Linked DNA regions of Homo sapiens. The protein of the gene in region 1 purifies or fractionates together with the protein of each later gene. This does not show direct contact. Each region holds a gene or a part of one and is shown on either strand. Other genes may lie near its edges.

What was found.
Region 2: the proteins of RPH3A (region 1) and GCH1 purify together in Homo sapiens (affinity purification with western blotting, with the first as the bait; one study listed by BioGRID). This does not show direct contact.

The regions. Positions count from the first base shown.
Region 1 is NC_000012.12:112,871,628-112,875,453, forward strand, and holds part of RPH3A (rabphilin-3A), read left to right. Parts: intron 1-940; exon of another isoform or gene 941-2,531; intron 2,532-3,157; exon of another isoform or gene 3,158-3,330; intron 3,331-3,456; coding exon 3,457-3,543; intron 3,544-3,826. UniProt on the Homo sapiens protein: Plays an essential role in docking and fusion steps of regulated exocytosis.
Region 2 is NC_000014.9:54,864,598-54,868,423, reverse strand, and holds part of GCH1 (GTP cyclohydrolase 1), read left to right. Parts: intron 1-2,987; coding exon 2,988-3,097; intron 3,098-3,826. UniProt on the Homo sapiens protein: Positively regulates nitric oxide synthesis in umbilical vein endothelial cells (HUVECs). May be involved in dopamine synthesis. May modify pain sensitivity and persistence.

The DNA.
Region 1 (3,826 bases):
AGCTTAGCATTCCAATAATGGAACACTGGGCATAAATTAAGAATACACAATATTCTATTGTGTATTTATATAGTGTATATATATATACACACACATAATATAGTGTACATATATATACAATAGAATATATAGAAACAGTATATATAATATAAAATATACAATATACAGTATACGTTATATATTATATACATATAGTGTATATACACACAGTGCATATACTATATATAGTGGTGTATATGTATATACATGTATATATACATATATATAGTGGTGTGTGTGTATATATATATTATATATACTACATTCTGTTTATCCATTCACCCATCAGTGGGAGTTTGGTTTATTTCAACCTTTTAGCTGTTGTAAATGATGTCATTGTGCGCCTGACATACAAATATCTGTTGCACTCTGTTCTTTTGAGTATATACCTATAAGTGAAGTTGCTGGATCATATGGTAATTCTGTGTTTAATTTTTTGAGGAACCACCATTCCGTTTTCCATGGTGGCTGAGACATTTTTAGATTCCCACCAACAATGCAAAAGGGTTCTCATTTCTCCATGTCCTCACCAATATTTGTTATTCTCTGGGTTTTGTTTTTGTTTTTAATAAGTCATCCCAGTGGTGTGAAGTGGCATCTCCTTGTGGTTTTGACTTGCATTTCCCTATGATTAGTGATACTGAGCATCTTTTCTTGTGCTTTTGGCCATTTGGATATTTTCCCTGGAGACACAGCTATTCAAGTCCTTTGAACACATTTTAAACTGGATAGTTTGTCTTTTGTTGTTGAGTCATAGAAGTTCTTTATATATTCTGGATATTAATGTCTTATCAGATATATAATTTACACATTTTTCTCTTATTTCATGGGTTGTTTTTTCACTCTTTTATAGTGTCATTTGATGCAAAGAAGGCTTTTATTTTGATGAAGCCCAGTTTCTTTTCTTTTTCTTTTCTTGCCTATGTTTTTAGTGTCATATCTAAGAAATCATTGCCTAATCTAAGATCATGAAGAAGTTCCTTTATGTTTTCTTCTAAGAGTTTTATAGTTTTAGCCCTTATATTTGGGTCTTTGATTCATTTTGAGTTAATTTCCACATATCAAATCCTGCTTTTAACGTCTATATTATTTTGTCTTCTGAGGACAAAGACAGTCATAGGACATTTCTGAACTGGATTTGAATCCCCTGTCCCTCAGGAGTCAATGTAAATATTCGTCTTGTCTAGCTTCTAGCATCCACCTGCTCCACCTTGAGTTGGGTTAGCTGCTACCTTCTCTGAGCTCCCAGGGTGGTGAGACGCAGCCCTAATGCAGGACTTATCACTGTCTAAAGCATTATAGCCTGAATCTCTCTCCCTTGTAATACCAGGGACATGTCTCTCTCCATTAATTTATTATGTTTCCAAATATTTGGAGCATCTACCATAATTTTATCTCTTGCTCATCATTTTCCAGCCTATACTAAGATTCTTAGTTGATTATAGGCTCTCAAATACTTACAGATTTGAATTAATAATCATAATAACAACTTAAACTTATTGAGCATCTACTCTCTGCCGGGTATGTGATTAAACCCTTTGCATGGGTCATACTGATCCAATCCACAGCTCTTTTTGGATAGGTACTATTGTAGTCATCTTCACATAATAGATGCAGCAAAGAGAGGCTAAAACAATCTCAAGGTCACATAAAAGTAATAGCAGGGCTAGTGTTTAACCCAGGCAGTTCACGTGCAGAGCCAATGCTCCTAGCTGGTCTGTTACAAGTTCCACTTGAGGGACTGAGAGCAGCTCAGTAAAACAAATTCCCAGTAAAACTCCCTTGTTCCAGGGCTTAATCCTGGAATCTCAGAGTCCTCCCTCACACACAGTGTGGAAATCCCTTCAGAGGTCTCTGAAAGGCTTTTGATCACCCACATACTCTCTGTCTCCCTACCTCTTGGAGCGGCTTATTCTATTGTTGATGGGCTTCAGGTGTGATTTACACATTCAACAAGATCTGAGATAGATTTGGACAGAAGTCCTACCTTCGGGGCTTCCTGGTTATGTGACCTTGGGCATATTTAACCCCCACTACCTCAACTGCAAAATGGGGAGCACAATACCATGCATGGCATTGAGTTGTGAAGCTTCCATGAGGCGATGTTCAAGGCCTGGTGCATTTGAAGAACTCAATGACTGTTGGGTATTGTTGCATCATAAACTCATCATTTCAGTGTCTGTCTCCTTCCTGTGACTGGGCTGTGCACTCCTGGAGGATATAAGATGGTGTTTTGTTCATCTTAGCACAGGGATTGGCACTTGGTAGACACCCACTGGATGCTTGTTGAATGAACAAATGAATGAATGGACAAATGAACAGGGCCTCAAGTGAACAAACAAATGGCAGTGCTAATGTGGGAACCTGGGACAAGACTTGGTGATTTGTAAGCCCCCAGGCAGAGGTGGTAAAGCACCTTTTGTTATGTGTATTCAAGCATCCATCCAGCCAAAAGTGCTGGATTCAGGAAAGATGGCATCTAGCCCAGTGAGGTAAGAAAAAGCAGGGCTTTCTTCCCAGAACATCACACCTTCTGGGTACCAGAAACTGCTGCACACATCATTCCATTCAGTCCCTCTCTGGGAAACAACAGCATGTAAGGGTCTCTGGCACAGATTCCAGAGGCCAACTGCCAGCGTTCAAACCCTGGCTCTGCAGTAACCAGCCAAGAGACATTAGATGAGCTCAGTAACTTCTCTGTGCCTCAGTTTCCCCATCTATAAAATGGAGATCATAAGGCCCCACCCCATAAGGTTATTAGTAGAAATTAAAGAAGTTCTTATATGTAAAGTCCAGGGCACATGGTAAGCACTAAATAAGTATGAATTCATTATCATTATGAGTTAAGTGGAACTGTTGCCTCCATGGGGCATCTAAGGTTCAGAGAGGATGAGTATCCAGCCCAGGGTCACACAGGCCATATGGGAAACAGCAGGAAGGCAAAGCCAAGTCCATATGAAGATAGAGACACATTCTTTCAATAATAATAAAATAATCTCACCACCTGTCATGTGTCGAGTCTTTAGTACATGCCAAGCACTGTTCTGAGCATTGCCTGTTTGTGTCATTGTATCTTCCCCACAACTCTATCAGCTAAGTGATTATCTCCATATACCAGGTGAGGAAACTGAGGCCCAGAGAGGACAGGTCACTTGAGCAACGTCACACAGGTGGAAGGAGGATTGTAGAACCTGTGCTTTTTAACAACTGCTGCTGCTGTGACTCACCAGAGTCTGAGTATTGAGAAGAAAGAACACACTGAAGGCAGAAGAGTCAGAAAGAGCTGAGCGAGTGAGGAGCTGCCTCCAGTGAAAGTCCAAGGGGCTCACCCCACACCAGCTGAGTGGTCCCAAGCTCCTTCCTGCTGTGTGTGTGTGTGTGACACATAATGGCTGTTTTCTTTTCTTTCCTCTGCAGGTTTGAGACGGGCCAACTCAGTCCAGGCCTCCAGACCTGCCCCAGGCTCGGTGCAGAGCCCAGCGCCACCTCAGCCTGGGCAGCCAGGTACCTGCCACTCACCTGCTAGCACCTGCCCAGGCTGTCACTCGGCTGTGACCCTCATACCTCCCATCCCTGCTTGCAGAGCATGCTGGGCTTTCTGCAAAGCTGCAGCCACAACTAAATCTTAACCTCTTCTAAGACCCTTACAACCAGTAATTCCCTGGGCCAAGAAGCTGGGCAGGGAGTGGGAGGAGGAGGCAGGGAGCATCTTACCCACCCAGTGCAGAAAGTGATGGCACCTCATTCGCCAGTGTTTCCCACCTCAAGGACCAACACCCCCATTTCA
Region 2 (3,826 bases), on another chromosome or scaffold:
AAAAATAGAGACAGGATCTTGCCCTGTCACTCTATTTGGAGTGGAGTGGTGCAATCATAGCTCATTGTAGCATTGAACTGCTGGGCTTAAGTGATCCTCCTGCCTTAGCCTCCTGAATAGCTATGACTATAGGAGTGTGCTGCCGTGCCTGGCTAATTTTTTTCTTATTTTTTGTGGAGATGGGATATTGCAGTGTTACCTAGGCTGGTCTCAGAATGCTGGGCTCAAGTGATCCTCCCACCTTGCCCTACCAAAGTGCTGGGATTACAGGTGTGAGCCACTGTGCCTGGCCTGATGCTTTCTAAGAGTACTTGTTTAGATATTTTGTGTCCCTAGATTTGTCTGATGATTAGGCTGCAGTTATGGATTTTTGGGAAGAATACCGCAGAGGTGATGTGCCCTTCTCATGGTGTCCTATCAGGAGCTACCTGATGTCAGTATGTCCTGTTACTGGCAAAGTTAACCTTAATCATTTGGTTAAGGTAGCCTCTGCCAGGTTTCTCCACCAAGTTACTATTTTTCCTTTTCTGTACTCTGTTAAGGCAAATTATTGCTTTTTAAATTTTGATGTACCTCAATATGCATGGGAGATACATAGCTTTGCAGCTCCCTCAATCTTAATTGTAATAATAATAGTAATAACAATAACTAGCACTTGCTCCGCCTGCATAGTTCTAAACACATGTGCCCATTTAATCCTCATGACACCCTGTGAAGCAGGCACTTTATGCTCATTTTATAGCCGAGAAGACTGAGGTACAGAGTACCTTGCCCAAGGCCTAATAACTAGTAAGTGATGGAGCCAGATCTTTTTTTTTTTTTTTTTTTTTTTTTGAGACGGAGTCTTGTTCTCTCTTGCCCAGGCTAGAGTACAGTGACATGATCTCGGCTCACTGCAGCCTCCACATCCCGGGTTCAAGCAATTCTCCTGTCTCAGCCCCCCGAGTAGCTGGGACTACAGGCATGCACCACCACGCCTGGCTTATTTTTGTATTTTCAGTAGAGACAGGGTTTGACCATGTTGGCCAGGCTGGTCTCAAACACCTGACCTCAGGTGATCCACCTACCTCTGCCTCCCAGAGTGCTGGGATTACAGGCATGAGCCACTGCACCCAGCCTGGAGCCAGCTCTTCACTTCGCCTGAGTTGAAGGGCTGACTTTAACATGGGCCATATGGTTGTCGTCAGAGCTTAGGATGGGGACGCTCTCATTCTTTGCCAGAGAAAACAAATGCTTCCTATATTTAATGCTTCTCTCTTGTTTTTTCTTTAAGACATTTTTTTGGTTTGTTTTTCCTTCCAGGAATATATCTTGTGTGACTAAAGATTTTAGTAAGCTATATGTGGCAATCATACCATATTAAAATCTTGGGGAGAAATCCAAGAAACTTTTGGAAACATTAAGGATCTATTTTTGGTCTTCTTTTCAGAAATAAGACTGAAGGTAGGGCAGAATATTCAGCATAGAAAAGTGCTGTGGTAGAAGAAATACTCAGTGAGTGACACTGCGCCTTTTTCTCCTGGGATGTTATCAGCCACTTCTACCAGGGGTGTCTCTGTTTGTCTGTATGTGTCTAACCCTGCCATGTTCGCCTTTCTTGACCACACTAATGACTTTTCTATGACACAGTCAAATGTATCTCTGAATAGCCTGACTTGGGGTAATAACTGTGGTTTACGTGATGACTTGGTCTCTGTGAGCCCCCTATTCTAGTAGCAGTGGAGCCACTGAAGGTCAGGCAGTGTGGGTGGACATTTGTCCATCTTCCTGTGACTCACTCAGCCGCCTGCCTTTCTGAGGGGAAAGAGCTGCAGGTGCAAAGCTCTAATACATCCCTTCCCTTCTCTGTCTAATTCTATTATGTATATTGCATATCCCCCAAATCCTTGAAATTACTCAGCTACGTGTCTTATTATATCTAGTCTGCCAAGCTGTCTAGGTATCAGTACAGTTTTTTTCTATGTCTATATTTATTTTCCGAAAATGAAATCCTACTGTATTTCTTTGTAGCTTCTTTTCTCATTTGACAATATAGCTGAAGAAGTTTCCATGTCATATGGCATTTATCTACAATGTTGTTTGGGTACCTGCCTATTATCAATAGCTTGGCTATATTATGATTGGTGGGGAATGTGGCTTGTTTCCCTCTATCCCTCTTCAGCATCCAGGACAGGATGTTCTTGCAGTCACCGAATGTTAGGAAGCTCAGAGTGCTCTCAGGCATCATCTGATTAATCTTTTCTTTTGCACATAGCATAGTTGAGGATAAGTCAGTGCAATTTTTAAAAATAAAGCTTTTTTTTTTTTTAATGTCTATTGTATGTCTGGCTGGAAGTGCCAGGGTCCACAGCTTAAACAAGACACTGCTTATCTTCCAAAGCCTTCCCAGAGAGGCATATACACACAAACTGTAGGATTTATTTCCTTAGGAAGGCAACTGTTTAGAATAAGTCTGATGCTAGCCTACAATATATAGAACACTTTACAAATGTAGAAAATTACTTGGGGAATTGATAATAGAGGTCAGGTTTACAGGTGTCTGGATCTGGCCTCAGAAGTCAGAGGGCTAAGGATTAGTCTTTTTCTCAGATATGGTTTTCTACATATTGATTATAGACAAAATATAAAGTAGAAGAAAATGTAAGGAAGAAAGTGAAAGTGGCCCATTTCTACTGCCAGAAATAGCCACTGTTTTATTTTGGTATAATTTTTCCTTTCCTCCCTCCGTTCTCCTTCCTCTTCCATACTGCAAATATGTTCATAATCCTGCATTTTTCATGTAACACTGTATCAAGGATTTTTAAATGTTACTTACAGAAAAGGACTTTGCTACTTTGATAAGGAAAAATATCTAGTTTTAATTTGTATTCCCTTAATATTTTAGGGAGGATTAACGTTCGTTTATGTTGACTGTCTATTCATGTTTATCCATAATTCTACCTTTCTATAAAATTGGACATGTTACTAAAGCAAGCCTCTGATTTCAGATGTCCTAAACGATGCTATATTTGATGAAGATCATGATGAGATGGTGATTGTGAAGGACATAGACATGTTTTCCATGTGTGAGCATCACTTGGTTCCATTTGTTGGAAAGGTAAGGTTCTCTTTGTTGTTTCCCAGCAATTTAAAACATAGTGAAAGTTTTTCAATTAGAATAATTATATTTAAAATTTTTAGCTGCCAATTGCTGATATCTCAGGTATTTACAATTATACATATATGGTTATTCTTTATTAACCTGACTAATAACTTGAAACTTAAAAAACAAAACCAAAGTAGCAGAAGGCTCTCAGGATAAGCCTTTCATGTTAAATACCAGGTTCATAGGTTAAAATAATGAGGTTTAAGTAGCATCTCTCTCTCTCTTTTTTTTTTTTTGTAGCTACTACAGGCTCTGAAAACCTTTAACCTTTATTTATTTATTATTAGCATCCCAATCTAGAGATGCCCTTTATTTTAACTTGAATAATGTTTGATCCAAGATAGATATGTATGTATGGCATGTCATGAGCAACAATAATTGCAGAATTTCTTGTGACAGAGGTTATGGTATTTGTGGATTTGTTTCCATTCCTTTCTATATTAGGAAAAGTGAATCTAATGCATTAGATTCCTCAGCACCTCTGTGAATTTCTTTTGTCAGAAATGTTTAGTCCTAGTCTTATGAAACTTTAGATCTAATCTAGTTTACAGGAAATCCAGAGGCTGAATGGAACAAATCCAGAAGGTGGGGCACTCTGCTGAACAGCTGGCCTATTCTCTTTTCAATAGAGAATATTATGGGTGGGAGCACTATTTTAGGACAAAAGGGACTTAAGAGGTA